Linked DNA regions of Homo sapiens: region 1 is linked to region 2. Evidence: fine-mapped expression QTL. A gene starts in region 2. The other region holds a variant in brackets. All regions are shown on one strand. Distances are from middle to middle.

Region 1 (14,515 bases), 360 kb after region 2:
CCAAGGACCGGCACCCTGGCCAGTTCCTCCCAGTGACACCAGCACCTGGGGAACCCCAAGCTCTCCCTTCCCTCTGCATCTGTATCAGCTCCTGCCTCACCCTTGCCCTCCCTCCTCATCCCCTTCTCTGGGAGCTCCCAGGGGAGGCAGGCTATGAAAATACCTGTTTAGCAAAGGTGTCTGGAGGGCCCTGTGGGTCAGGCATTGGGCCCTGGGAGCACTGGCCCCACCTTCAGCAGGCTGGGTGTGTGGTGCCGAGGCCCGGGGTTTGTTCCCTGTTTTGCCTTTTGCTACCCCTCAGGGGATGATGAACACTCTTCCTTTTCAGCCCCTGTGCAGCCCCCTACAGGGCCTGGCACACAGCAGATATCACAGGGTGGCCCATCTCCTTCTCCACTGAGGTCAGCTCCAAATCTTCAAAGAGAAGGGGAGCTGGGAGAGGCAGGGCTGACACTGAGCAGCTCCATCAGCCCAGCCCTTCCCCTCTCCTGTCGCTATTGTCAGAGACCTCAGTGGGGCCAGGACAGTCTGGGATTCTGATCAGAGCTCTGCCCACCAATCCCATGCTTCCACTCTCCTAATCGAGCAAGCCCTGGGCATCTCCAGGGAGCAGAGAGGCAGCTCCTGTTGCCCATATCAAATTGCCCTGTGTCATGTGACATGTCACATTATTATTTTGAATATTTCCTTTGTGGGTTTAAGTCTTAAAGAGGCTGTTGAATTCCTTAGTACTTTGCCTGCAATTATGGCATGCTGCCACTTGGTGGCAGTGGTTCTGCAGGCCCACAATCTATGCTTTAAACGGAGATTCAGGTTGCTATTGTAATTTTTCAAGACTAAAAAATAAACTTTTTAATGTTAAACTAGATGTAATTCTGCATTTAACCCAAACTAGCCAACCAGAAGTGCTGGCCAGGAGTCAAGTCAGCTGGGCATTTTGCCGGCCTGGGTCAGATAAGGGGTAATCATAAACATCAGCTACCTGTATCACTCAGGTCCCGCCCAAACCGGGCAGTGAGGCTGGTTGCTAAAGATCAGTTTCAGCTCCTGCAGGAAAGACCTTAAACTACAAACGAGGGACTGGGACTCAGGGAAGGACAAGAGCAGGGCTGACTACAGAAAGGTGAAAAAATCCAACCCAGGGTCCAAGAAAATACTAGGAGACCATTGCTTCCAGTGCCCACCTGAGCACCCTAAGATATGCTGTTGTACAGAACCCCCAGCAGTGCGTGCCCCTGAAGACAGGTGAGAGTCAGCTGAGTCCATAACCTCCCACTCTTATGCCTACAGATGTCAGCCATAGAGACCATGACAGAGAAGCTGGAGAGCTTTGCAGCCATGAAGGCGGACTCGGGCAGCTCCCTGCAGCCCCTCCCCCACCACCCCTTCAACTTCCGGTCCCCACCCCCAACGCTCTCCGACCCCATCCTCAGGAAGGGCAAGGAGCGATACACGTGCAGGTGAGGGGCCCTTTGGTGCTGCTGGGACAGCCCTGGCGGGGCTCGAGTGCCACACCTGTGGCTGTGAACCTGTGCTTCCAGGAAAAACTCAGAGTCCCGGCCATAGGAAAGCACAGCACTGCAATCAGCTGGTTATCTGCTTGAGGTCATGCTTTGCAAATAAGTGACTTGGGTGGCCTCCCCTGCCTCACGCCATGCTGTGCTCTTGGGAGCTCAAGAATATGCAACCTCAGCCCAGCCTGAACTGGGAAGGCTGGGCCTGAGGTGTGCTGGTCAGTGACTAACCTCAGCGCTTGGAGGGATGGGAAGCCCAGTGCTACAGCCTCAGCCAATTTCTGCAGTGTCAGGATGACACCCTCCCGGCCACCCTCTGCTGGTGCAGGCCTGTCCAAGTCTGTTGGAGCCTGCCCTGTTCACCGCCAGACTGAGGGGCCGAGACGCTTCAGGGGGCAGGGGCTGCTCTGTCTACTACTGTGGCCCATGGCAGCCTGCTCTGCAACTGAGGCTGGGCTTCAGGGCCGTGGAAGGGACTGAAACTGGGATGCTGGGATGGGTCCACCTGTGCATCAGGTGTGAGACCCCGAGCATTAGCTTGAAACCATTTCTGGGAAATGGCCATGTAAGCCCACCCTAATCCTCCCTCACCCTCCCCACCTCCCTCCACCCCAGGTACTGTGGGAAGATCTTCCCCAGATCAGCCAATCTCACCAGACACCTGAGGACGCACACTGGGGAGCAGCCGTACAGGTAGGTGCTGCGTGGGCTGGGTGTGGGGGCGGGGCCGCCTGCCTCCGTGCACCGCTGACCCACTCCTAGGAGTAAGTATGCCATTCCCAGGGCTCCCTGCTGGAGTGAGCAGGCAGTGGGCAGGGCCGGGTGCTGAATTCTGGTCACTCTGGCCCTCCCCTCCTGGCCTCAGCAGGATGTTTGAGGATGAGGCAGGAGGTGCCCAGGAACCTTCTGGAAGGCATCTGCCTGGCTCTCAAAGATGTGAGGGAGCAGCTCTCCACCCACCCTAGGGTGTTCACTGGGGCAGGGGATCCTCATCAGAGCAGGGCTGACCAGAGCCAGGGCCCAGAGGGTCCACATGGGAGAAAACCTCAGCTTCCCCACACCCAGCCCAACTCCGTTCATCTCACGACGGCCATAGCTGCCCCCACACCCCCACTTCTGGTGGGCCAGGGAGTGGGCCAAAGGCAGAGTGAGACTCCGTGCAAATGCGGGTCCCCACCCCCCACTTGGAGCCCACTGAGGGATTCCACGGGGTCCCGGGGACAGCCTGGATGGGAAGCGGTGCGTCTGCTTCCAGGATCCCCCCGTGCTCCTCTCATCTGAGGAGCCGGCTGGCACCTGCAGTGAAGCAGTCACACAGCTCATCGGGATGGGGGAGGCATTGAATTTGGGGCTCACAACAGCCTCCCAACAGGCTTGTCATCCCATTTCAAAGATGAGGGGCCCGAGGCTCAGAGATGCCCCATGAATCACCGGGGTCAGTGCCTGGGAGTGGGCATTTTAAGCGAGAGCCCCAGACAATGGTAACTGGGAGGCGAATGGGGAAACGCTGGTTTTCTGCCAAGGCTGGTTTAGTGACACATGCAGGGTGTGTCTGTTCACAGAGGCCATTGGGGATAAAGAGTGCTTCACACGGCTTAAGTTGACAGCATAAGATTTCTGTCCTCTGGCCACACAGAGCTAGAGGGGCCACATGATAGTGCAGGCACTGGGGACTCAGTCTGTGTCTCCATCCCTGGGGAAGGAGACCAGCTGAGGCACCTGTGCATGTCGTGGTCACTGACCCCCACTCTGAGACAGAGCAAGCATCCCCGGCTGCCCCAGGGCTGTGTCCCAACTCGCAGGGTAAATGACAGCTTATACCACTTACGGGTCATCTGTTCAGCGCTCACAGCCCTCCCCAATTCACAGGCCCCCCCTTACCCACCCTTCAAAAAATAGTGACTTACAACTTAACAAAGGCTAGCAGCAGAAAGATTTATTTGGTCTGGTCCCCTCCCAGAAAATGAGCTGTGTGTTTTTTCTGTAATGAGAGCCGACTTCTGGACAGCGTTGTGTGCTAAGAGCCCCTAGAGGGTCGGGGTGGTGTTTATAGAAGAATTTAATTATCATTGATTTCTTTTGCTCTCTCCAATCTGTGAGTTTCGACTTTGGTAACAATAATTGCTTTGCAAGTTTGTGTTGCAAATCCTGACTTTATCTGGCTCAAGGCAGGTCTGTGCCGAGGGGTTTGGAGCGTGTAGCTTTCCTTTTGATACCACTGGTGGTTTCTGGACTGGCTTTGATAATCAGAAGGATTTTAAATTGGAGGAGGGAAAGTGCCGGCCATCCCCAGAAGCCTGCCAAGAGGAGCTCAACCCCCCATGCCCGCCCCAGTGTGAGCCCCTTTCCGGTGCCAGCACCCACGTGTGTGCCCGCCGCATGTGCATATGTGTGTGCCCTGGAGAGGTCGGGCTGACGCAGCCCCGCGCAAGCAGGAGGAAGCAGGCTTCTCATGGGTTGCCTGGAGTGATAGGGTAATCAAACCAGATGACATTGGAAGCCTCTTCCGTTTAAGTCCTTGCCTCAGATGACCTGAAATCGTTCAGAATGTGTTTCAAAGCCCTGAGGTAGGGAACGTAGAGCCTTTGGTGCACCAAATATGTTTCTTGGAGGTAACTTGGCCCCTAGCTTCTCCTGGCCTAGAGGTCTTTGAGTGAAGCGGGAAGGTGAGATTGAGTTAATGGCAGTCTTATTTCTTAAAAAAAAAGTTAAGCATATAGGCTTTGCGGGATTTGGGTTGGAGAAGCATGAAAATTGAACTGGGAGTGGGGAGAGGGGCTGCTCCTTGGTCTTCGTCCTGACAGCCGGCCCGGGGGTCTCTCTGGGAGGCTGCCCAGTGGAGCCTGGAGTCACAGCCTGGATGCGAGCAGGGCTGCCCGGGACTCCTGCTGGGACCGAGATTCCTGCCTCAGGGCTGCTGACTCCCTAGTCTGCCGTGTGCTTCCATCATCTCCCCAGGCTCCATCCTGCCTTCTGTGTGAAGCTGGAGCGTGCAAGGGAGGCACAGTTGTGCTTCCATCGGGGGCTGCACGCGGCCCGTGCATGTCCTTTCTTTTTTAGTTGTATTTTTACGGCTGGGTTTCAAAATCTCTTCTTTCTTCCTCTTCCCTCACTTTTACAGTCACCAAAAGCAGATCCCCCTGTAGTGGCTGCAGGAGACCTCACTGGATCCTAGGAAGGATGCCGCTGCCCAGTGCTCAGGGGCTCGGGGGCCCTGGCCACCCCCCCTGACCTGCCCATACTCTGTTGTTCCCCTGCCAATGGCTTCTCTGGGAGTGCAGCAGGCACGGTCACAGCAAGGTCCTCTCAAGGCCCTCCGCATTGCACCAGGGCCAGGCTACCCTGCACGTTCTCCTTCCTTTTGGAGCTCACGGGCGTGTTATTTTACGCAGTGAGACCATCAATTTCACTGGCCGCTTGTCAGCTTATTTACAACGCAGACCCCAGCTGCTCGGAGAACTCTGCTCCCTCGCAGCCCTGGGCTCACGGCTCCCCTAAATTTCAAATGGACTTCTCTGTCTGGGCCATTTATTTAGATTAGAAGCAAGAGAGGGCCACGTTCAGGGCTCTCTGCAACCAAATTGAACGCACAGCCCTGTTCGTGGCTCTCCCCGGCCCCAGAGCTTCACACAAGGGACTTGCTCTCCAGTTTTATGAACAAGCTTCTTTTCCAATCCCATTTCTTACCTCGGATCCACAATTGCTAGGGTTTATGCAAGAGCCATTAGGTGGACTTTCTGCAAAAGTCTCTGCATTTCCAAAGAAACCAGGAACTGAATGAGCCGTGTTTGAGCACACATGCAGACAGACAGGCAGACACACAGGCAGGCGGACAGACAGGAAGATAGGCAGGCAAACAGACAGGAAGACAGACAGGCAGGCAGACAGACAGGCAGGCGGACAGACAGGAAGACAGACAGGCAGGCGGACAGACAGGCAGACAGACAGACAGGCAAACAGGCAGGAAGGCAGACAGACAGGTAGATGGACAGATGGATGGACAGACAGGCAGACAGACAGGCAGGGCAGACAAGCAGGAAGGAAGATAGGCAGGTGGACAGACAGATGGACAGACAGGCAGGCAGACAGGCAGACAGACAGGCAGGGCAGACAGGCAGGAAGGCAGATAGATAGATAGGTAGGCAGACAGACAGATGGACAGACAGGCAGACAGACAGGCAGGGCAGACAGGCAAGAAGGCAGACAGACAGGCAGGTGGACAGACAGATGGACAGACAGGCAGGCAGACAGACAGGCAGACAGACAAGCAGATGGACAGGCAGGAAGGCAGATAGACAGACTGGCAAGCAGGCAGACTGGCAGGCAGACAGACAGTCAGGCAGGCAGACAGATTGGGCTGCCTCAACATGCCAGAGGGGCACATGGCCCCAGCTGGGTGGGAAGCCTCTGGCTGGGCAGAGCCTGAATGCTCAGACTGGCAGGTGCTTTGCATCCGGGCTGGAGACGCAGAGTCCAGTGTGTCCTTTCTCAGCAGTCAGTCAGCCTCAAAAGCATGGCGGTCCCAGGGCCAGGCACCACCATTCCAGTCTAAGGATGTGTCAGGGTGGGGGATGTGAGAAAATGCATTGGAGGGTGTAAAATCCCTCCTTTCTGGGAGATTGTGTGGGACACGTCGGGTAGGGGGGCACCCAAGCATCTCCAACCCTGCTGCCGAAAGGGCTCCATCCTCGGCCTTATTCTTGTGTGAGTTCACAGGCCGAGTCAAACAAAACTGCAGCGCCGCCCAGGGCAGGCTTTGTGGATGGCCAGTCCAAGCCAGGGCGCTGCCTGTCACTGGGCTGTGGGAGGAGACGCTGGGACCCGGGTGCCCGGAGGCAGCTCAGCTGACCCGGGCAGGAGCAGGGGCTCCCAGAGAAGAAGCCCACAGGCCAGGCCCCTGGGATCAGGAGCAGAGAAGGCTGAGGGTCACTTCGGGGAGCTCAGGGACTTCGATCACCAATGCTTCTTTTCCTGTCTACTGTTGAAGAGGCCAGAGTGAGCCTGGCCTCCGGCAAAGGTTGGAAGGTTCAGGAATTGAGTGGATGAAGCCTTAGGGCAGCACCAGGGAAGTTTGCTGGGACGAAGTGGGATGGGGATATGCCTCGGCCAGGCGTGGGAGAGGAGTGCCCTTCTCCCAGGACTGCCTCCCGTTCTCTAGGGGACCCATTTTCAGACTTGCTAGGTTTTACCAGGCAGCCTGGGGAGTTGGGGGAGACTCGCAGGCTCTGAGATTCCAAGGACAGTTTCTCACGGCCGCAGCCCCTGCACGTGGGGAATGCTGAGCTCCTGGGCCCGGCAGCAGCACCCGGAAGGTGTGGGACTGAAGCTTCCTGCCTTGGGGAGGCCCCTGCGGGTGTGTTGATGGCAGGTCAGACTCCCTCGCCAGGCTTTTGTGATAGCAAACACCAGCCCAGGCCCCTCCTGTACAGGGCAGCACCGTGCCGAGAAGGCCGAGCCACACAGCCCCTCCCGGTCTGGGAGGCCAGGACTCCCGAGTGTCACCAGGCACGTCCCCATCCATGTGACAAGGGCATGTGACCAGTATGCTGCTCTGGAGCGGGCCACCGGCACCGGTCGGGGCGGGGTGGGGCCTCTCGGAGTCCTGTCCTCTGTGGGAACGAAGGCCACTGTGCTTAGAACAGCCACACCCACTCCGGGTGAACAAACCCTGCCCCATCCTGGTGCCTCCACAGAGGCTCCCACAGAGGCCCTGGCCTGGTCTCCAGCTGCTACCAGGCCCCCCCGGCCAGGATCCTGCTGCAGTGGGTAGACTTTCTGTGTGCTGTGCCATGGGCATCATGGAGCTTGCTTTGTTTTCAAAATATGAAAACGCATGATCATATAAACAGAATGTTCAAGTGCGTGTGTGCCTGTGGGATCAGATGAGCACCGCTGCGGGCGTTCTGATGACCAAGAGCACACACAAGTGTGCACACACAGGCATGGCACACACGCACATGCCAAGCACCCACGTGCAACTGAAAACCATGCAGTCAGGGTTCCCTTCACCGTCGCCCAGCCCAGCCGGGTGCCTCTCAGTAAGCCAGTCCCAGCCCCCCGCCGGATGCCCCCCAGGGAGGAGGCTGTCTTCACAGAGGCAGCGCACGTGCATCTACAGAGCTCATGGGGTTCCTCCTTAGCTCATCCCCAGCTCCCCCTCTTCGTTTCAGGCATGATTTTCTTGCTGCTCAATGCACATGTCGCTCAGGCCCCCTAGTTCTCAGCCCCGCTCTCTAAAAATGGGAGAGAACAACCCTCCCTTTCCCTGCCTGCAGGGTCACCACGTGTGGCTGTGAAGGTCACTCCCAGCCCAAGGGCCCCACACTGAGGGGAACCCTCCACACGCAGCCCTCCTCGATCGCTCATTATGACGACTTTCCAGCCGCAAGGGGCCTTGCTCTGATAAACTCAGGGTGTTAGAGTCCTGCTCTGCCTGATGCCGTGGAGGCCAGATGGAGGAAGGGGGTCTCATCCCAACTTCCCCACGTGCACGGTGCAGGCCGGCAGCAGCCCTGCCCACCCTGGGGGAATAAAGATAAACCGAGCCCGGGAGCTGGCAGTGCCCAAAGGGGCCAGTGTGGTCTTTGTGTCCTTAATAGAGGAGGCAGCCAACAAGTGGCAACATCCAGGGCAGCCCCCAAGCCCTCCATGAATGGACTGGCAAACTGAGGCTCCAAGTGAGGTGGGGCCTGCCCAGGGGCCCCCAGCCACCTCGAGGGGTGGAGGAGGAAGGTCACAGGGAGCTGGTCTGGGAGCTGGTCTGTGGAGCCCCTCCGGCTGGGAAACTGGCCTTGCCGAGTGTCTTTCCATGGAGCAAGGCCGCCCTCTGGAGGCTGCAAGGAGCATGTCGCCCTCCGGCTGCAGACCTGCCGGCCCCGCGGCCTGGGGGCCAGGGAGACCCAGACAACAGAGGGCAGGAGACGCCGGAGGGTCGGGCGCACCGCCTGCCCAGGGGACACGGGGCACACTCCAGGGGGATCCACCAGCCAGCCACAGAACAGTAGGAGGGTGAACGCCTGCTTGCTTTTTTTTTTTTTTTTTTTTGAGATGGAGTCTCGCTCTGTCGCCCAGGCTGGAGTGCGGTGGCGTGATCTTGGCTCACTGCAAGCTCCGCCTCCCGGGTTCACGCCATTCTCCTGCCTCAGCCTCCAGAGTAGCTGGGACTACAGGCGCCCACCAC[C/T]ACGACTGGCTGATTTTTTTGTATTTTTAGTAGAGACGGGGTTTCACCATGTCAGCCAGGATGGTCTCGATCTCCTGACCTCGTGATCCACCCGCCTTGGCCTCCCAAAGTGCTGTGATTATAGGCGTGAACCCCTGCTTCTTGAAGCCGGGGCTGTTTCTAGGGACAGCTTCCCCAGGATGCCTTTGGCTCTGCAGCTGGGAGATCCAGCAACCTCCGGGACACGGCGGGGCAAAGCTGTGCACGGGGCACGGGGCAGGGGCGCGGGCTCCCTTCCCCCCACCCTCTGTGGCCCGGCCTGCCATGCAGAGCCGGGGCCTGCACTGAGGAGCGCGTGTGCCCCTTCCAGGTGTAAGTACTGCGACCGCTCCTTCAGCATCTCTTCGAACCTCCAGCGGCACGTCCGGAACATCCACAACAAGGAGAAGCCTTTCAAGTGCCACCTGTGCAACCGCTGCTTCGGGCAGCAGACCAACCTGGACCGGCACCTCAAGAAGCACGAGCACGAGAACGCACCAGGTGGGCCACGCGGGGTGGGGCAGCCCCCAGAGCACCCACACGGGCAGGCCCCACAGAGGGGGAGGGGGAACAGCAGGGGAGTGGGCGCCGGGCAGGGAAGAGGGCCACAGACTACCCCTCAGGAAGCCAACAGGCACCCCTCAAACCGTGGTCATTAAAGAGAACCTCGTGCTCTCCGGTGTCCCTAAGAAACCTGCCTCCCTAACAGCACCCCAGGTGTACCCCGTTCGCGGTTGGTTTGCCCCACGGAGGGAGGGGTCCAGCGAGAGGCCGCCCCCTGATGCTCCCGCCCCTCCGCAGTGAGCCAGCACCCCGGGGTCCTCACGAACCACCTGGGGACCAGCGCGTCCTCTCCCACCTCAGAGTCGGACAACCACGCACTTTTAGACGAGAAAGAAGACTCTTATTTCTCGGAAATCAGAAACTTTATTGCCAATAGTGAGATGAACCAAGCATCAACGCGAACAGAGAAACGGTAAGAAAACTATCGCGGGCTGGGGAAAGTCTGGACCCGGCCAACAGCCCTGCGTGGCCACCCTCAGAGGACATGCACCTCCACCCCAGCACCAGCCCCTAACACATCCAGATAGGCGCAGTGGGGGCCTCACCACAGAGGGTGAGGCCCCTGGGCTCTGGGAACCTGGGGAAGCTGCGCTGTCTGCCTCAGTTCCTCCACCTGGAGAGTCATGAGAGTAAGCACCCCTGGGCTTATGACCTCACTGTTAACATATGTGTGTGCAAAACACTAGCCAGGTGACCGAGCCGGGCACAAGTTCAGCTGTGCCGCTGACACTCAAGGACATTTTGATTTAATCTGAGGCACTAAAGATTTCCAAACCAAAATGCTGCACCTTTATACACACATGTACACACATACACATGTGTACACATGCACGCACACACATGCACACATAGGTATGCCCCGTGTACATGTACACATTCACATGCACATATGCACACAGAGATGCACGTTTGTATACATGTGTATACATATGCCATTGATGAATCCTCACTTGTTCCTCACCTGGCCTTGCTCTGGGAGCTGCAGTTTAGGGGATCGTGCCTGGGGACAGGGCAGGACGTGCCTGGGGACAGGGCTGTGGTCTGGGCATGGGCAGTCCAGGAACTGTGTGCTCTGCCCTTTGCGTGCAGGTCCCCAAATACGGGCATGCACGTGCACTCATGCACACACGTGTACATAACATGTGCGTGCATAAACATGCCTGCCTAGATCTACACACACGCATATGCACACATGCAAGTACATGCACATGGACAGTGTGTGCACATACACATGCGTGACGGACAGCCGTGTGCGTACACCTAGAGACACATGTACACGCATGGGCGCACGTGCGTCTAGACACACAGCAGCAGAACGATGGTGGAATTCGGATCCAGGAATGTCGGCGCATGCTCTGTGCAACCTGGGATACCAGGGCTCCGTAGGCCTCACTTACTCTGGGGGAGCCTTCAGACACCCCAGCGGGGCTGCTTCCTTTGTGAAAGCTAACACCAGCCAGCTGGCAGAGAACCGAAGGTGTTCCAAACTCCAAGAGGCCTGAGGGGGTGATCCCCTGATTCTACAGAAGGGAAAACGGGGCCCACAGAAGTGGGGTGTCTTGCTCAGGCCCAGAACCTAGAGCCAGATCCCAAGCTTTTACCGCACTGGCCATGGGCGGTCTAAGGCTCTGTACCCACAGGGCCCAGCTCACTCCCCACCACCTCCAGTAGGTGAAGAAGAAGCCCCCTGAGACCCCAGCTCCCTCAGAGCCCATCCCCTCCTCCAGGGCAGGGCTGCGTCTTCCTGTCATTGCTTCTAGGAGAGTGGGGGTACCTGGGAAAGAGGCATCCAAGCAATAAACACAGGAGGCAGTTGGACACTGGCTCTGGCAAAGCCACGTTCCAAATCTGTGCCCCTCCTAGGAAGGTGAGCTCACCTGTAGGGCCCTCAGCATCTTCATCCATCAGAGCCCAGAGCGGGCTCAGAGGAAGGGGCGGGGGGAGAAGCTGGCTCTGGGCCGTGGTCCCAAAAGCCTCACCTCCACCCCAGTGCAACCCCACCTACTCTGCAGCCCCCAGGCTGTCCCGGCATTCCCCAGTGGGCTCCAGGAACGATGGCCTGAAAGGAACTCTGCCCTGGCCACGCTGAGACAGCCGCATGGGAGCTGTTCGTGTTCCCTGCAGCTGCGTGTCAGACCCATGAGCGCCACAGGCCAGGCCTTACCTACGCCCCACAGCCCCGTCCCCAGGCACAATCCCCTAAGCTGCAGCTCCCAGAGTAAGGCCAGGCGAGGAACAAGTGAGGATTCATCAATGGCATCCTTGCCGGGGTGGGCCCAGGACCAGGAGCGTGTGCGGAGGCTGAACCACCTGGAGGACAGCAAGGCCCCCCTACCCCGAGCTAGGGTGCAGCCCGGCCGCACTGCAGGAGACCCACCAGGACCCCGAGCTAGGGTGCAGCCCGGCCGCACTGCAGGAGACCCACCAGGACCCCGAGCTAGGGTGCAGCCCGGCCGCGCTGCAGGAGACCCACCAGGACCCCGAGCTAGGGTGCAGCCCGGCCGCACTGCAGGAGACCCACCAGGACAGAAGGCTGTCTCTAAGAGAAAGAGATGTGGCCGGGCCTCCCCCTCGCCTATGGCAAGGCCCACAGTGCCCTGCTTCTCACAGCCCTAGGGGTGGGGACGAGGGAGGCTCTCCACACCTCAGAACATACGGGCACAGCCGGCCTCAGACGGACTCAGACTCAGGCCCTCGGAAGACCCGTCCTGCTGAGGCAAGGTCCCCGGGTCCAGCTGGCCTGGTCCTGAGAGCCCCTGCGTCACTGACGAAAATGAGAACAGGGCAAGGTGGACATAGGCAGCCAGTCCCTGGGGTGGCGGGAACGTTCCCTGGGCCTCCTGCAGAACCAGCTCCTGCCCTCCGCCATCAGGAAGGATCCAGTTCTGTCAGGAGTCCTGGTCCTGCAGCCCCGTGAACCCCTGAGTTGAATCATGTCCCTCAGCATTCCCAGGTGGAAGTCCCAGCCCCCGGTACCTCAGAATGGGACTCTCTTAGGAGATAAGGTCTTTAAGGAGGGATTAAGCAGAGGCCACACTGGGTAGAGTGGGCCCCAATCCAGCGGCACTGACGGCCTCTTAAAAAGGGGGCACTTGGAGAAAATCACGCAGGGGAGAAGGCCAAGGGAAAATGGAGACAGAGGTCAGGGTGATGCGCCTCCCAGCCAAGGGTCACCTAAGAGGGACAAAGGTCACCAAGGATGGCCAAGGAGGGCCAAGGGTCACATAGGAGGGCCGAAGAGTGCCAAGGTTTGCCAAGGATGGCCAAAGAGGGCCGGCAGCAGCGGGAGCTGGAGAGAGACCAGGGACAGATTCTCCCCCAGAGTCTTGGAAGGAACCCGGCCTGCCCTCGCCTGGATCTTGGACTTCTGGCCTCAGAGCTGTGAAAGCGTCCACGGCTGTTGCTTCAGGCCCCCATTCTGTGGGGCTTGGTTTGGGCAGCTCTGGGAAACTGACTGTCCTCCCTGTTGGAGCCAAACCAGCCACTGGGCCCTATTCTGTGTCCGTGCCGGATGCTCCGCTCCCCAACACTAAAAAGCAAATACTCTGTGCATGGGGGGTGTGCAGCAGACATAAAGAGGGCAAAGTCCCTGCCCCCAGCTGGTGGGAAGCCCATGCAAACCCACGTGGGGCCACCAGATGAGATCTCACAGCACATGCCCATGTGATGAGCCTGGGCTCTCACCCTGCGCCATCTCATCCCGTCCTCAGAGTGGACAGGGAGGGGTATGTCCTCGTGTCATCGAGAGGGCACAGGCCCCAAAGACAGAACCCCACCCGAGGGCACCTCACCAACAACCAGGGTGAGAACCAGGACCCGGATCCCAGCAGCTCCGTGGCTGAGGAGATGGGTGTGTGTACAGGACGCTCTTGGCCCCCAACACAGGCGACCAGGACCGAGGAACTCTCCTCAAGCCCTGAAACCTGGTGAGGTTCTGTCCGTCCTGGAAGGCAGAAAGACAAGAGATAGACACGTGGCCCATCTGTGGAGAGCCAGGAAATTGTGGCCTCCCCAAGCCCAGTTCCCGTGCACACAGGCGAGTCCGAGACACGGAGGTCGGTCGCCGTGAGACGCTGTCACTTTCTTGCTTGGATGCCAAGAGCAGGACCCCTGCATCTCACCCACACCGTGGATACCTCCCAGGGCAGCGGGAGGCAGTGCCCCCGGGCGGAGTGAGGACAAGGAAGAGTGGCCCTGGGGCTCTGGGCATGGGCAGTCCAGAAACTGCGTGCCCTGCCCTTTGCTTGGGCCCCTCTACCAGTATGTCCAGCATGTGCCCGGGGGCCCTCAGCTCCCCTGGGGCCCAGCCCACCCAAGACACAGCTCTTGGTCGTGAACATGAAGATGAGCCAAACTCTAGTGGCTCTTCCTGAAAGAAATGAGAATGCCCAGCCACACCCATGCACGCTTTGTTCTTTTTTATTTAATACTGAGGAACCGGAGTGGAGGGGTCCTGCCGGGCTGCAGTGACCCTGAGGGAAGTCAGGAGAGCCCTGGGCTGCAGAAGAGTCCCCCCACAGGCTCCGAAGCAAGCTTGTCCTGGTGCATTCAGACTGCTCACAGCAGGCTTTGGGCCCTCACTCTCCAGATCCCAGAGAGCCCTCCAGGGCTCCCGGCTCTCGGGCCAGTGCCCACGTCCTCGAGTTGTCAGCCTGAATTCCTTCCCCCTGAAGTCTGCCCTGAGGGTGCCCCTCGTGCACTGCCCAACCCCCGTGCCAGTGCAGGTCCAGCTTCCCCACAGGACTGCCCACTGCTTCCACCCCAACACCGCCCCGGCCCTGGTGTCCTCCCGGCCATAGCAGCTTGCTGCTGGGCCTTGCCCTGCCCCCACCGCCCCGAGCGCTTGCCCTCCTCTCCCGGGATCGCCCCCAGGCCTCCGTGCCTCTCACTCTGCAGAGTCAGTGGCTGGGCCCAGGGACCCGCGGGAGCTCCCTCAGGAAGGGGGCTGAGTGTTGTCGGGGGAGGCAGTGGGGGCAGAGCGGAGTCACCAGCCTTTGGGGGTCCATGGGAAGGACAGAGACACCCAAACTCAGTCAATCTCCTCCTGCATCATTTCAGGGCGGACATGCAGATCGTGGACGGCAGTGCCCAGTGTCCAGGCCTAGCCAGTGAGAAGCAGGAGGACGTGGAGGAGGAGGACGACGATGACCTGGAGGAGGACGATGAGGACAGCCTGGCCGGGAAGTCGCAGGATGACACCGTGTCCCCCGCACCCGAGCCCCAGGCCGCCTACGAGGAT
Region 2 (14,515 bases):
ATGAGGAAAGGAAGGAATGAGTGAACGGAAGGGAAGCGCGGACTTCAGTTGCCAGGAGACCAGCTGGCCCCTAGACATCTCCACCCGACTGGCAGCACCAGGGCAGGACAAGGTCAGGAGGGCAGGGCTTGACTGGGAGCTAGGGGCCCCTGAGCCAGTTAAGGCCTTTGTGGATGAGTGGAGCAGGTGGCTCCTGGGGCACCTGTCCTCACGCCTGGCCCCAACTTGCCCTGTGTCCAGCCAGGAGGTGGTTACCTTCTAGGGCTCCAGCTCAGAGCCTCTGGGAGTAGTGCTGGGTTCTGGGAGAGGAAGTGCAAGAGGGCAGGCAGGAGGGAGAAGGGCTCCCTGCCTCTCCAACAACCTGCAGGGCTCCAGGAACTGCAAGCCACTCATCGGGGTGCAGCTGCCCCACCACAGGGCCAGGCTCTGCCGCCACCGTTCTACCTTGGGAAATTGGACTCCCAGGAAGCTGGAGGGGCTGCCCGAGGGTCCCAGGAGACAGGAGGCAGAAGCTGAGCTTGAGTTCCTCCTGTCTCCCCACTCCCCCAGCTGTCTATGGGCCCTGGGGTCCCAGCACTGAAGGGTGGAGAGGGGAGGGAGGCTGACGGTGTGGGAGGGGTGGGTCACTGTTTCACCTCAGTAGAAGCCCTCCCCTCTTCCCTTGTGCAGCCTACGGGAGCTGCCCTGGGTGTTCCCCTTGTAATTCCACTGAAGTCATGGGGGAGGGGCTGCTGAAGGCTGGACCTGCCCTCTTCACCCCAGTCCCCAGGGCAGGCCCCACCTAGGTCCTCAAAGAGGTGACCTGTGGGGGCTGCAGGGGGCACTATTCTGCACACAGGGGTGTTCCTGCCACTCAGGCCCCTGCTTTGATGAGGAGGCCCAGGGACCCAAAGTGTGGGGGTGAGGGCGCCCCACAGCACGGCACCCGTGAGGGGACTGGAGTTCTTGAGTTACCTGTGCCTGGCTGCTCTCTCCAGCCCCCGGGGCATGGGCGCCGGTGTACTGGCGGCGGCGGGGGAGCAGGCAGCTCTTTCCCAGGAGGACGCCCGAGTGATTCCATCACCTTCGGGTCACTCTACAGAACTGGTCATTTTTTCCCTGCCTGGGGCGATCCTGGTCTCTGCTCTATTCTTGCCGGCTCTTTGAGCCGTGTCTCGACTGCCACCACCACTGCGATTATTGGTTTAGTAGAAAGCAAAGCTCGCAGGGATAGACCCTTGGGTGTCCCTATGGACACCCCACTCCCCTCGGGTCCTTCCCCGTAAGTCCTGCCCCAGGAGGTGGGAGGCCCAGAGGTGAGAAGGTCTGCTCAGACCATGGCCCCCTGCTTCCCACACCCCACCTCCTCCGTCTACACCTAGAATGGTAGTTTGTGCCGGATCCCGAAGCCTCAGCTCCCCAGGCCATGCTGCGGGGCCCCGCCCAGATGTGTGGGAACGCGGCTGCCGCCGGTGCCAAAAGACCTACGTCCTCGGAAGTGGGTACGGGGATGGCGTATTCCCTCCCGCGAGGTTCGTTGTACCTAGGGGAGCCTGGGTCTCCAGTCCTCCCCCGACCCGCTTCCCCGGCAGGCCCTGTCCCCCACCCCCAGCAGCCAGAGCGCCCGGGCAGCCCCTGCCTTCTCCCCAGATCCCCTCCACACTCTGCAGGATTTGGGGTGCTGGGTGGTGTCATCTCAGGTTCGAGTCTGCGCGAAACCTCCGGGCTTCTGGAGACCCAAAGGGACCTGAGAGGAAAGCCCAGGGCGGGCCAGACTCTGCGGTGGGGGTGGGAGGAGGGAGACCCCAGGGGCGGCGGAGTCGGCCCTCGCCCCTCCTCCACCCAGCGGGCGAGGAGAGTTCCGGGAAGGCCGGGGGAGGGGGAGCGAGGGGAGGAGACAGGGACGGGCCGGGCCGCCTCCAGAGCCGCCGTGGGGCGCGCCCTGTCCCGCACGCCTCTGACCCCCGCTCAGCAAACGAGGCCCACGGGGTGGGCGGCCTTGGGCCTCCTCCTGGCAGCTTCCACCCAGCCATTCTCTCCAGCCAGCCCTGCAATAAACTCCCGGAGAAGCACAGGCGCGCCTGGTCCCATTTCACAGACGAGGAAACTGAGGCGTGGAAAAGAAACCCACCGCAGCTCCGTCTCCACGGTTTCACCTGCGGGGTATTAATCTCTCAGGATGAAAGGCAAAATTTGGTTTTGAAGCTAAGAGGGCCGGCAGTGGGGGGCAGGGCGCGCTGCGGAGAGACGGCAGGAGCGGGCTTTGCAAGCCGAGTCTGGATTCCGGCGCGAGCCGATTCCGGGAACTGGCTTGGTGACCCGGCCGCCGGCCCGTGTCCCGGGCTCTGGGCGTTTGGGGACACGGAAGGCGGGCTCCCACCTGGCGACTCCCGGAATGTGGCCGCCGGGCCCGGAAGGCTACGAGGCTCGCCATTTTCGTTGCTGCCAGGGCCCCGCCCGCGCGCGGCCGAATTGGGATCTGAAGGCAGCGGCAGCGTCTACGCAAGCAGCGTTCTGGAGCGTCGCTCTGCCACCTTCCCGCGCGCAGTTCCGCGCGAGCCGCAGGACGCGGGCGCTGTGGGTAACGAAGTTGCTCCCGGTGTGCGCAGACCGGCGGCCCCGGGGTTGCGGGCGGCAGGAGGGACCGCCACTCCACGGCTGCGGGCGCGCGTGAACACACGGCTGAAGGTCATAGGCAGCGCATCCAGGCAACAGCATTCGTTGGCGGATTTTTAAAGGTTCTTAGATCAAGAGGGAAAGCGTGTGAAACCGATTCCGTTTATTGCCCCCAGCGGCGGGGGAGCTCCCCGTTGCAGACACCCAGCGGCTCGGCCACTGCAGCGTCCTGGCCCAGTATGGGCCGCACACGAGTAGGAGTCGTTGGGGGCTTCCTGCACCTTCTCAGTGAGCCCGGTTGGGCCTGGATTCGGCTCCCTCCTGGGCCCAACGGGAGGAGATCAAGGGAGTTCAGGTTCACAGTCTCAATCTCTTAAAACAAAACAAAACAAAAAACTCCGGATTGGGCCCTCGAAGTGCCCATGGGGCATCCAGATACTCCCGACATCTGCGCAGGAGAGCTGGGCACCCTGGTGGGGACGCCAGGACACAAAGCCGGGCAGAGGGTCTCCACTGGGGTGGCCACGGCATCGTGCAAGCCGGTCCCCGGAAGCTGCCCATCTGCAAGGGACAAGGACCCTCTTGCAATCAAAATAAGTCAGTTTCCACACATCTGGGGTTTGTTCGAAATCAGCGACATGGCTCACATTCCTAGGAAGTCCACTCCTCCCAGCTACCCACTCTGGGACCAGGAATCGGGTATCGGCTTTGGGAGGCCCCCACCTTTGAGCAGTGCAGGGAATGGAACCTTGCCACCACTGGGCCACAACTGGGACCTGTGTCCTGTCCTCTCCAAGTATTCTGGGGCACAAGAAGGTTTCCCAGGCCTCGGGTGAGAAGAAGGTTCAAAGGGGCCCCGAAATATTGACCCCAGGGTCTGGGGGGATTCCTGTAGCCCCAGTGTGCGGCTGAGGCATGATGCTGGAGGAAGCACCCACTTCGGGTCATTTCAGAGGTCTCAATAGGGAAGAAATGGCCTTTTCCATGACTTGTGTCTCCCACCCACCCCCACCATTCTAGACCAAACGCAGGCTCCTTCCAGCATTCAGCCCCCATCGAGTCCCCTGCGAGGTATAGGGTCCAAGCAGCCCTCCTCCATGTTCCCCTCTGTCTAGTGGGAGCCAAGTCAGCCATCCCCAAGGGCCCCTGTGGTCTCCTGGCTCCTGCTGCTCAAGTCTGGGGCAGGAGAACATGCCCGGGGAGCAAGAGCCTCATCCTGGCCTGACTCAGTGGCCCACGTATTGGGGGTGGGGTGAGCGCTGGCGATCTGGATCCCACCTGGGGCATTTCCAATCTCCCAGGAAAGCCCGTTGGTAAACCAGAGGCTGTGTGCTTCTTTGCTACCCGGAGGAACAAGGTGGGGGTGTGGAGTCAGTAAAACCTTGACCTGGAATTCAATAGAGCCTGAGGCCAAGTATCTGAAAACCCATGGCTAAGTTCAAAAAGCACAGAGGAGTGGGAGAGAAAGGGGTGAGGTGAGGGGAGAGAAAGTGGGAGAGAAAGAACCTGGTGAGGTGAGTCCATCTTGCCAGGTGCCATGCCTACCTCCTGTCCTGCACACACGGCCCGAAGCAGGGCTCCCTGGGGCCTGAGGGGCTGGGGGTAGGGGCAGCTGGGGCTGCTCTGACCCTGCCAGTTGGCATGGGGCACAAGGCCTGGCCAAGCGAAGGGGCCCTCTAGCCCTTGAATGCATTTGTAGATTCCGGGAGTGGAGGGCAGGCCGGCATGGTAGTTCTGCTACTCAATGGGCTTCTGGGGAACCCCTGGGGCTTGGGGGCCTCCTACTCGCTAATAAGATGCTTCCTCCAGCACGGCAGGACCAGCATTTCTGGCTCTCAAACCCGGCCTTTTCCCTAAGGAATTAACCTGGTCATGGGTCTCCAGCCGTTAGAAACACTGGGAGTCTGCAGGGCTCATGGAGAAATCGAGTTTCCATGGACTCCCTCTCTGCCCAGACCCCAGCAGAAGTTGGTGGTTAAAGCCCCGCTCTAGCCTCCAAGACCCCAGCTATGAAATTGGTTTTGGAACTCGACAGCAGCGTGCAGTTGTCCAGTGTAGGAGCCTCTATGTGGCCAACCCACACTCACTGTCCTTGGACGACCCAAGGAGGTCAGTAGGAATGAGCTTACAGCACTTACAATCCCAGCGCAGGGGCCCCAGGGCCTGGCATCAGCCTCAAGGCTCTGCAGAGCTAGACTTGGTTTGAAAATTGCCCTTAGACCTTTTAGTATCAACCTTTTCCCCACTGGGCCTACATTTGCCCTACCTGTTCTCCAAGCCCCCCAAAGCCCTTGCCAGGCAGGGACACAGAACTGGGCCCCAGGGAGGACTTGCATCTGATCTTCCCTGCTTCACCCTTTTTCCCCACGGGACTCCTCAATGCCTGACCTGCTCTCCGCTTCTAAGTCTGGCCACGCGGGGGCAGGGCCTGGCCAGGCCAGGATGCAACCTCGGCCAGGGCCATGGCCTTGGGGACAGCCTGCCTGGGCTCCTCGAGCAGGCTCGGGAGACACTGCCCCACTGGAGCCAGGGCTGCGTCAGTGCCTTGCAGGTAGGCAGCCCGGCTGTCTCCCTGGCGAGGCTTGACCGGCAGCTACCCCTTCCCAGGCAGATCCATGACCCCATCCCTACCCAACAGCCTGGTGGAGGGCAAGGACCAGATGGCACAGACCAGCTTGCTCCCATACCTCCTGCCCTTCTTCCCTAGGGGCTGGCAACAGGCCAGGGATGGCTGTCCTGTCCTAGCCTGGCCAGGGTTCTGAGAACCACCTCCTGAGCTGGAGGAGGAGGCAGGGAGAGGGCCTGAGAGAGTTGGGGCACCCGTAGAAGAAGGCCAGGACTGCACAACCTTGGCATCTGTTGGCTACCTCCAGGCCAGGGGCAAAGGAGGCCTCTGCTGGGCTGCAGGGTGAGGGTGGGGAAGGGACCCTCTCTGCAGGTGGGAGTGGTTCGCAGGCACCATAGTAACTTCCCCAGGCCTCCTCCCAAACCTGCAGAGGCTTCAGGCAGGAGCAAGGGGGACCTGGGTGCAGAGATATGGGAGTGACCTTGAGTCCTTTCTAGCCAGCAGCTCCAGCCAGGTTGGGCCCACCGTTGGGAACCTGCCCTTGGCGGGGTTTAGGCAAGACAGCGCCCGTGTTCCTGGGCTCCAGCACCTCCCACCCACTGGGGCGAGCAGGTTCAGAACCGGCCTTGGCGGTGCAAAGCTGCAGCGGTGCCCTAGTTGGCTAGGCAGATCAAGACCTCCAGAGCCGGGCCTGTAAACTGAGCTGTTCTCTGCCCCAACCCCTGTAGAAAGATGGTCAGGGTGTGGGGAGGGTGGGTAAAGGGGTCGATAGACCCTCGAAAGGACGGCAGGGAATGGGGCTGTGCCATTGCTCATGGCCCTTCTCTAGGCGACACTCACCTGGTGCCAGAAACAGCAGAGGTAGCGGCCAGTGAGCGCTTCCTCCATCCGGGGCTCGGGCGGCGAGCTGGCTGCAAGACTGGGCACCCTGGAGCCGTGGGAGCCTTGGGAGCCGAATCTGGGTTCGAATCTGAGCAGGGAAGCGGTGCCGACCGCGGAGGATCCAAGGCAGAAGGCCCAGCGCACCGCCGCCGCCAGCTCCTGCCCAACCCGGCTCCGCTGGGCTTTTCCTCTGGGGTGGCGCCGGCCCCGCGCCCCTCCCCATCCGGGGCGCCTCTGCTAGGACACCGGGGTCTCGGGGTTTCTCAGGGCTGCTGCGTTTCACCTCCTTTAACGCGGAGGCGCGGAGTTGCACGTGTGGGTCTCAGTGGAGCCGCCACAGGTCTTATTACACAACAAAGGGCAGGGAGGGCAAGGCCAGGAGCCTCGCGGGGCGGCGCAGAGACCCCGCATCGCGGGCGCGACCCCTGCCTCGGGCTCAGGCTGACTCTGCGGCAGCTCCAAGTCCCGTTGCCGGGCAGGACTTCGGTGCTCCGGAAGGGTGCGGGGCAGCAACCTGGCCAGGGCAGCGCCTCGGTTTCCTTCCAATTCATTCTCGATTCCCAGATACTCAGATGAGAAATCCGCACTCAGGCCGTCAGGCTCCTGGGCCCGGGCCACCCTGCCTGCGCTCAGCCCGGCCCCTCCGCCGCAGCGCCTCGGAGTTTGGGGGCTACAGGGGAAGAGGAAGCGTCTGGTCGGCTCCCGTCCGAGCTGCTCCACCTGCGCCGCTGGCCTTTCCGCCCGCTACGCACCTGGGCCCCGAGAGGCCAGAGGGGAGTGTCCCCAGTGGCCCGGGTCCCCGAAGGTGGCCCAGCTCGGGCGCTCGCGCAGCCGGGTACTCACCTTGGGGGCGCGGCGGCAGGAGAGCGCGGGCGGAGAGGTGCGGGCGCCCTGGGACGACCAGCCGAGGACGCCTGGTGTTTGGACGGCTGCCCCCGCGCTGTCCCCCCGTGCGAGGCGTGTTGGCCTCCGTGGCCTCGCGAGGGACCGAGGGCGGCGGGTCCGAGTGCCGCCCGCCGGCCTGGGCAGTGGCGGAGCGCGGAGCTGGCGGCGCCTCCGCTGTTGTTTTTGAGCCGCGAAGCCCGAAGCAGCAGCCGTTGGGTGGGGGCGAAGGGGAGGAGGCGGGGGCCGGGAGGCGCGAGGGGGGCGGTGGGGCCCGGAGGGGGCTTCGGAGGAGCCGGGTTCTGGCGCGCGAGCCCCGACGCCCCCTCCAGCGATCGCAGGGCGGGGACGGGGGCCGAGGGGAGAATGCAGGAGAAAAGCGGGCCGGGGCGACGGGGAACGCAAAGCTTTTAAATTAGTAATCAAACGCAGTAAAACGGAGCAAAACCAGCCCGGACTCGCGTCCGAACTATCGGCGCGTGTGCCCCGAGATCCAAGGAAGTCGTGTGGAAAACCGCAGCCGCCGCCCCATCTTCGGCCCCGGCTGGGGCGGGAGCAGCAGCGCGACGCGCCGCGACGCAGGGGCAGGGTGGGGGGATAGTCACCTCGCCTCCGGGGCCACCTGGGTCCTTTTAAAGTGTCCGGGGTGCGGGCCCCGGGCGGGAGCGCCGAACACGGAATGTTTTCTTAAAGGGCCAGTTCCGAGCTGCGCTGAAAAGGGGGGGGGGGAGAGGGGGGAGAGATAAGTGAGACGAAGACCGAGAAGGCCGAGGAGAGCCCCCCAATCCCGCGCCGAGGCGGCGGCGGCGGCGGCGGCGGCGCGACGATGAGGATGATGAATACATTGCAAAGTTTTTTTGGCCCCGGCGAGGGGTGTCAGATTGAGTGCTCTGTGCGCATGTGCGAAGGTGTCCAAACTGACAATGCTGGGGAGATGAAGATAGTGTGTGGCTGCTTCTGGACTCAAGGAGGAGGAGAGAGATTCCGCGAGCCGACACCATGCGATCCAAGGCGAGGGCGAGGAAGCTAGCCAAAAGTAAGTCTCCCGCGCTCGGCCGCGCCGCGCCGCCGGGGCCCGGGCCGCCGGGCCGGGGCGCCCGGGCCAGGGGTGCGCGTCGGGGCGCGGCCGGCGCGCCTGCGGCTCCGGGCCCCCGGCTCGGCCGCGCGGCCCGGGGGGCTGCTCCGCCTCCCGCGCTCCGGGGCGACCGGGCTCGGCGCGGAGGCTCGGGGCGCCCGGGCCGCGCGCTCCCCGAAGGCGCCGGCCCCCTCCCCGCGGAACCCCCTCCCCCCCCACCAGTGTCAGGCGCTCGGGCCCGGGAACCCGAGGCGCGCGGTGGGGGCCGGGGAGGGGGGCGGAGGGGGAGGGCCGGGGGTGGAGGGGAGCGAAAAGTGAAAGTTAGCGAAAAGTTGACGAAAGGGGAGAGCAACTTTTTCCTCCCCGCTCGCTCTCTCCCTCTCTCTCTCCGAGTGGCTCTCAGTCCTGGTCAAATCATATTCCGGGCTTTTGAAATAGTGGGCGCTAGAGCACCGCCTTTGGCGTCCGCCAGCCGGGCGCAGAGGAGGGAGACCCCGAGCCGGGGAGGGGCGGAGGAGGGGGCGCGGGCCGGCGCCCACCCGGCTCCGCGGGCGCAGGGGCAGGGGTGGCGACGGCGGGACAGCCGCAGCCACTTGGGGAGCAAAATGGAGACTTTTGCCCGGGCTGGGAACTGTGGTCGTGAAGTTTATCCCCGGCTGTGCCCCGCGTGGTGGAGGGCGCTCCTCTGGGACGCCGGCAGCCTGCGCGGGCCGCCGGGGCGACAGTGCCTCCGACAGGAGGGACCCACCCGGCCACCTCCCGACCCGCCGCTGCCGCCCTCGGGCCCGCGTGGACCCCTCTGTACCCGCTTGCCTGGCACAGCCGGGCCCGGCGGGGACAGAGCTGCCCCGGCCAGGCTGCCCGGTCCTCGGTCTTACTTTCTCTTTCGCTCCGTCTCGGCCGAGCCCCGGGCTCCGCGCGCCCCGCCTGCCGCCAGCCGGTCCTTGCCGCGGGCCGGGTGCTCCAGCCACCCGCGCCCTCGCCCGCCACAGCGCCTCCGAGCAGCCCGCGCGCACCCCGCAGCCCCGGTCGCCGGCGCCATCCGCGGTGAGGCGGGCGGGCAGGTGAGGACAGGCGGAGCCGCGGCCCGGCCAGCGCGGCTCCCGCAGCCCCGCCGAAGCCCCGGCTGCAGCGAAGCGGCCAGCGCCGCGCGGAGCGGAATCGGCGCCGCCTGCTCCCGCCGCCCCCTCCTCTGCAGGCCGCCCGCCCGCCCACCCGCAGAAGAGGCGCCCGGGCCGCTCCCCTCGAGGTCCCCGCCCGACCCACGCCGTTCCGTCCGCGCCTCCGGGGCCGGGTCCCTCCAGGCCGGCCTCGCAGCTCCCGGGGCCGAGCCCCCAAACGTGAGCCGGGTGCGCGCGGGACTCGCGGCGGTTTTCCGAAGCTCCGCTCCCTCGGCTCGGGGCCCGCCCGGCTCGTCCCAACAGCTGCCCCGCGGCCGTAGGCCCCGCGCTCTGTGCACCAGGGAAAAGCAGCTCCCGAGTTTGTGCCGGACGCTCCTGCGCCCCGCCATCGGCCGTTCCCGGCCCCTGGGTGAGGCGCCCCCTTCCCGCCGCGCTCCGCTGCCGGGTGCCCTCGGCCTCGGCCTCCCGTGACCTCTGACCCCTCTTGGTGCGAACAAGACCGGGCGTTTCGCCGCCGACGCGAAGGGGCTGTCTGTGCGCGGCGTTGCGGGCCCTCCGCGCGTGGGGTGTGCGTGTGCGTGTTCGGGTTCGGTTCTGTGTGTGCACCGCGGGCCTGCTCAGAGTCGGGACCACCGGGCTGCGTGTGGGCCGCCAGGTCAGGCCCTCGCCCAGGATGGGCCCTAAGCTGGAACGAGAAAGGGGAAACCGGCCGCGCTGACGCCGGGGCCTTCGCTGCAAGCGAGAGGCGGACTCGGCGCACCCGCGCGGCCCTGGAAACTTCCGAGAGGCCCCAGCTCTCCGCCGGCTCCACCTCTGCCAGGTGGGGAAGGTGGCCCGGGACCGGGTCCGCTCAGGACCAGAAGTGGTGCCTGGCAGCCATCTGGCCAGGAGGCCGGAGAGCCGGGCCCAGCGGGAGCGCCGAGCGCTGGCTTCCTTTTCCCGAGAGTCTTTAGTGAGGAAAAACCCCATGAGAGGTGACTGCCAGGCCTCGGCCCTCTGTCCACACTTGGCCGAGCGCTGGGAACCCCTCCTTCCAGGCTCCACAGCTGGGACCGCTTGTCCCAGGCCCCCCAAGGTGGCTGAGGCAGGTTCAGGATCACACTGCCTGCCCTGAGCAAGAAGGCAGGATCCGCTGAAGAATTTCATTTCATCAGGCGATATTTTAAGCAGATGTGAACTTCCCCGGGGACCATAGTCCATTACCCGAGTCAGAGGCGGTAGGGCCAGCACTCCAGCCAGCAGGTCCTCCCCTCCCCACAATGCTGACCAGGTCAGGGGACTGTGGGGTTGGGCAGGGGCAAGGTCATGGTTACCAGGTTGGTATTCAGGCTGGGCACAGAACAGCAACCAGGCCAGTGGAGGTGACCCCATGACCCAGCATTTCGGGGGCCACCGCCGAGTGTGCATCTGGAGGTGTAATTTCGTTTGTGTTTCCCTGGAGACCCCACTCCAAGCCTCAGTTCAGGTGGGTTAGTCCTCTGGATTGGGTCTTGTGAAGGGCCAAATGGTGGCGGCTCCGGGGGTGACCCGGGCTTCCAGCTGAGCTTTCCAAGGACAGAGGTGGCCACTGGGGCACCCAAGCCGGGGCTGTGGCTCAGCTGATGGGAAACCTACAGCCTCCTCCACCTGAGCCTGGGGGCCAGGAACAGAGTGAGGACAGTTCAGGGACAGGGTCCCCCCTACTGAAGCCAGGGCGGTAGGGCCGGTGGGGTAGGGGCTGCTGCAGCCCCACATTTACAAACTCAATGCTTAACAAAAGCTTATTGTTTCCAGGGCTGTTGTGAGCCAGGTGGGCAGGTGGGGGGTTAGCACCACCAAGGTGCTCTCTGGATCACCATCGCCCTCATAGCACAGCTGGGGGCCTCTGTGCAGGAGGAGGATGTGCCAGTCGGCACCCCCATCAGAGCTGCTCCTTGAGGCCTGATCCCCACCTAGGTGGCAGACCCCATGTCCTAGATGCCACATACCCCAGGGCTGGGGGAGTGTCCTCTCCACAAGTCCCATCTAGCCCCTGGGGTGGGGGAGCTGCAGCCCCCACTAGATGGGGACTGTGTGTGTCTTGCTCGTGTTTGAGGGTGATGCGTGTGGAAGGTGTGCTGGAGACAGGGTAGAGGTAAGCGGGGCTGGCGGCCCAGTTCACAGCCTCCTTCCTTCTTCGTAGAAACAGGCCAGGCTGGCTGGGCCCTCCCTTCTCCCACCCTCCCTGGGGCAGTTGGCCCCGTCCACCAGTCCCCTCCCCAGAGCCAGGACGGCAGCCTTCCCTCTGAAGGCCGGTTAGGGCAGCAGCGCCAGGACGTCCGGCGGGAATCCAGCGTCTTGCCCCGCTTCGGACGAAAACACAGAGGCTGCGGTGGAGGGGTGGAGTGCGGGGCTGGCCGCCAGGGCTTGGTGCCCCACGGCAGTGGACTGTGTGTCACCCACAGGCCCCCTCCCTCAGCCCCTGGCTGCGCAGGTGTGCCATGGCTCGGAAGCTGGCAGGAGGGGCTTGCCAAGCTGGCTTGTGGAGCAACTGCTGGGTGGGCTCCTTGGGGACAGGCACCGGCCATGCCTGGCTCGCCAACCACCAGACGCCCACTCGGGGGGTCCTCCTTGTCCTGTGAGCGGCTCTTCCAGAGCAGGTGCCAGCCCGACATCCTGGCCCCTCCTGGCCCCGAGGCTTCCTCGGCTCCCAAGTCCTCCTGTAGGCAGTGCGCAGGGCAGGGGACCAGGTCTGCCATTTCTGCCGGGAGGCTGGGTGAAGGGGACCCAGCAGCCAGGGGCTCCCCCCACCGGGCCCCTCAGGGGAGGTGAGGCTGGTGGCAGCTCGCTGGGCCGCTGTGGGCCCGATTAGCCCCCTGTTTTATTCAATTAGGAGGCAATTAGGGATCCTTGGGGGGCTTGGGCTGGTAATTAAGGTGATGTATAATTAGAGTTTCAACAAAAATTATCCGGGATTAAAAATCTTTTGAATAATTTCGTTTAAAATTTTCAAATAGCGTTAAATACAATTTATCAGGTTTTGAATCAAACCCGTGTAACGAGTCTTGGAAGCTGCAGCTCCCGTCGCCGGCGCGGGAGGACCAGGAGCAGCTCCGGCGACTTCCCCGTGCGGGAAGGAAACTTCGCGAGCGAAGCCAGCTGGCTGGGGCCTCGCCGCGGTGCAGCGGCGGCCGCGGGCTCAGAATCGAGCCACCGAGGGCTGCAGACGGCGTGGGCCGGGTCGGGGAGCGGGGCCTGGGGGACCCCGGGCCGGCCGGTAGTCTCGGCCGACTTCCCACTCCCCGCGCACAAAGTCGCGGCCAACTACCGCGGAGCAGCGCCCGCGTCCACACCGCGCAGCCTGGCGCCCCGACCCTGGCCCAGCGGGAGCGGCGCTCTCCCCTTCTAGAGCCCCAGCTTGGACCCCGGGGTCCCCTCCTCCTGGCCTCCCTTGCGGAGGAGGGCGGCCTCCGCGTCCCCAACCGCCGACCCTCGACCTCGTGCGGGACACCGTGGGCGCCAGGCCCCCCGCTTGCCTGGGTTCCCTGCGACATCCCGACCCGCGCCCCGAGAGACGCGGGAGCGCGCGCCGCCTGGGTTTAAGTAGGGGCTGTAGGGGGAGGGAAGACGGTGCAGAGAAACGGAGGCAGAGGGTGGGGGTCTGGCTTTCCAGGGTAGACCCGCCTGCCCAGTCTGATCCGCAGCCCCGGCCCCTGCCGGCAACCTCGGGAGACGGGCCGGGCTCCCTAGTGCACTTGGGGGACAGGACACCTCCTCCCTTCACTGACCCTGGGAAGACAGAGTGCAGGCGAGCAGGCACCACTTTTGAGAGTGAGAAACCCCAGACGCAGAGAGGTGGAGGAACTCTTGGGAGGGCACACAGCAGATTGAGGCTCCAGTGAAATTCAGTGGAATGAAGACCTCCAGGGCTTCTTATGTAGCATTCCCCTCCCCCACAGAGCACCACAGGCTGCCGTTAATTCCATAGGGTTTTTTCTGTGTGTGTGTGTGTGTGCGCGTGTGTGTGTGCGTGTCAGGGTTTAAGCATTTTCTCAAGGCCAATGCTCAACTTGTAGCAGGTCTGTTCTTAAAAAGCAGGCAGGACATCACGTGCGTCCAGCGTGTAAGTGACCTCACACCTGCAGGCTGGACTCCCGCTGGGCTCCGTCCCCCACAGCTCCTGCCCCTTCTGTGGGTGTTCTGTCCCCAAGGGCAGGCACAGAGGAGCAGAAACCTTGGTCGGGTGGCCTGGCCTGCACCCTCCACACTCCCTCGCTCACTGCCTTCATCCGGAGCAAATGCAGGAGGCTCAGGTTGGCCCGGGAGGTGTAGGACCTGCCCTTTGCCACCCCTCAGATCTGGAGGGGAATAACCACCACCCACCGCCTCCACCCACCGCCCAGCAGTCAGGGGGAGGTGGAGCTGCTGCTGCCCTGTTGGTCTGAGCTGCAGGGTGGAAGGGGCCGGCTGCTGACATCCCTGGTCCAGCCTGGCGTGGGCCACGGCTCCTGAAGTCTGGGTGTCTCCTAGGCTGCAGCCAGGGCCACGGTGGTCATCCTGGGCCAGGAGTGCTCCCAAGCTTTGGTGGGCCCAGAGCAGGGGAGGAGTGGCCTCTCCCTGGTCTGACCACTTCACTCTTGGGCTTTTGCCATCAAATCCTCCACGGTCTGGAGGTGCCTGGGCTGGCCCGCCTGGCCGGCCTAGCCTGAGACGCGGGAACAATGCCCCGAGGCCTGAAGATAGGAGTGCTGGCCGCTCCAAGATCATATTTGTTTAATAGTTAACATTTTGGGCAGAAAAGGAGGGAAGTCAGATTCTGGTGAAGGTTTTGCTTATTTTATATCCACTATAACTATTTCTGTCCATGAAAATTGGCTTAATTATATCAATGGAATGTTTCTTTTTCAATTCTGTATGCAATTAGTCCATCTTGCCGGCTGCAATTTATTTTAATAAAAAAATAAACCAGTGGTGTGTTCAGTTCCTCGTCCCCTGGGGACAAATGCGATTGGTGTGTTTAATTTCATTAACTACAATGCGGCCTACTGGAAAAATGTATAAAATCAGCTTTATACAGCTTAAACACTGGCATTTGAAACAAATCATTATTGCATTAGCTGTCACACTGGTAATTCTAGAATCTAAGGAAAAAAATATATTATGGCTGTTTTTATAACCCTTTGCAAATGCACTGTTAAAATAATTTATAATCATTTTAAAACATGGCTGGGTCCTAGTGACTATTTCATCTCCTCTGAATAAGGCTCTGTGCCGTCCCATGCGCGTTTTCCGCGCTGATGGCGGTGCCGTTTCCGAACCTGCACACGCACCTCTCAGAGTGGAGGCCGTGGAGCCTGTGTTGAAACGAACCCGGTGAGGAGGGGTCCCTTTTTCATTCTGGCCTGAACCCCACTCGTCAGGCGGAGCAGTGGGTGC

Alleles and levels. Alleles are on the strand shown, and positions count from the first base shown. SD is a standard deviation of normalised expression in the study named.
For the expression in spinal cord of the gene that starts at base 7,868 in region 2, allele C in region 1 goes with a lower level than allele T (large effect, 1.2 SD a copy in GTEx).

The links. PIP is the estimated chance that this variant, and not a neighbour inherited with it, causes the effect.
Region 1: its variant is fine-mapped to the expression of PRDM16 in spinal cord (GTEx, PIP above 0.99).

What each region holds. Positions count from the first base shown.
Region 1 is chr1:3,416,538-3,431,052 of GRCh38, forward strand. It overlaps PRDM16 (PR/SET domain 16), which reads left to right. Exons shown (of 17, transcript NM_022114.4): 11 at 1,291-1,460; 12 at 2,130-2,207; 13 at 9,044-9,213; 14 at 9,514-9,688; 15 at 14,335-14,515. Among named protein-coding and RNA genes, the nearest start is that of ARHGEF16, 31 kb to the right of the region's middle. RefSeq lists an enhancer at 4,127-4,627. The variant C/T (reference allele first, on the strand shown) is at 8,695.
Region 2 is chr1:3,061,336-3,075,850 of GRCh38, forward strand. PRDM16 (PR/SET domain 16) reads left to right here and starts at 7,868. Exons shown (of 17, transcript NM_022114.4): 1 at 7,868-7,961. The coding sequence starts at 7,925. It overlaps LOC124903827 (translation initiation factor IF-2), which reads right to left and starts at 14,227. Exons shown (of 5, transcript XM_047436614.1): 1 at 8,879-14,227; 2 at 6,887-7,636; 3 at 6,002-6,713. The coding sequence starts at 10,528. The coding sequence ends at 7,613. PRDM16-DT (PRDM16 divergent transcript) reads right to left here and starts at 6,390. Exons shown (of 6, transcript NR_015440.1): 1 at 6,002-6,390; 2 at 2,877-2,967; 3 at 1-2,720. It also overlaps the pseudogene LOC100420339. RefSeq lists enhancers at 6,187-6,761, 11,344-12,192.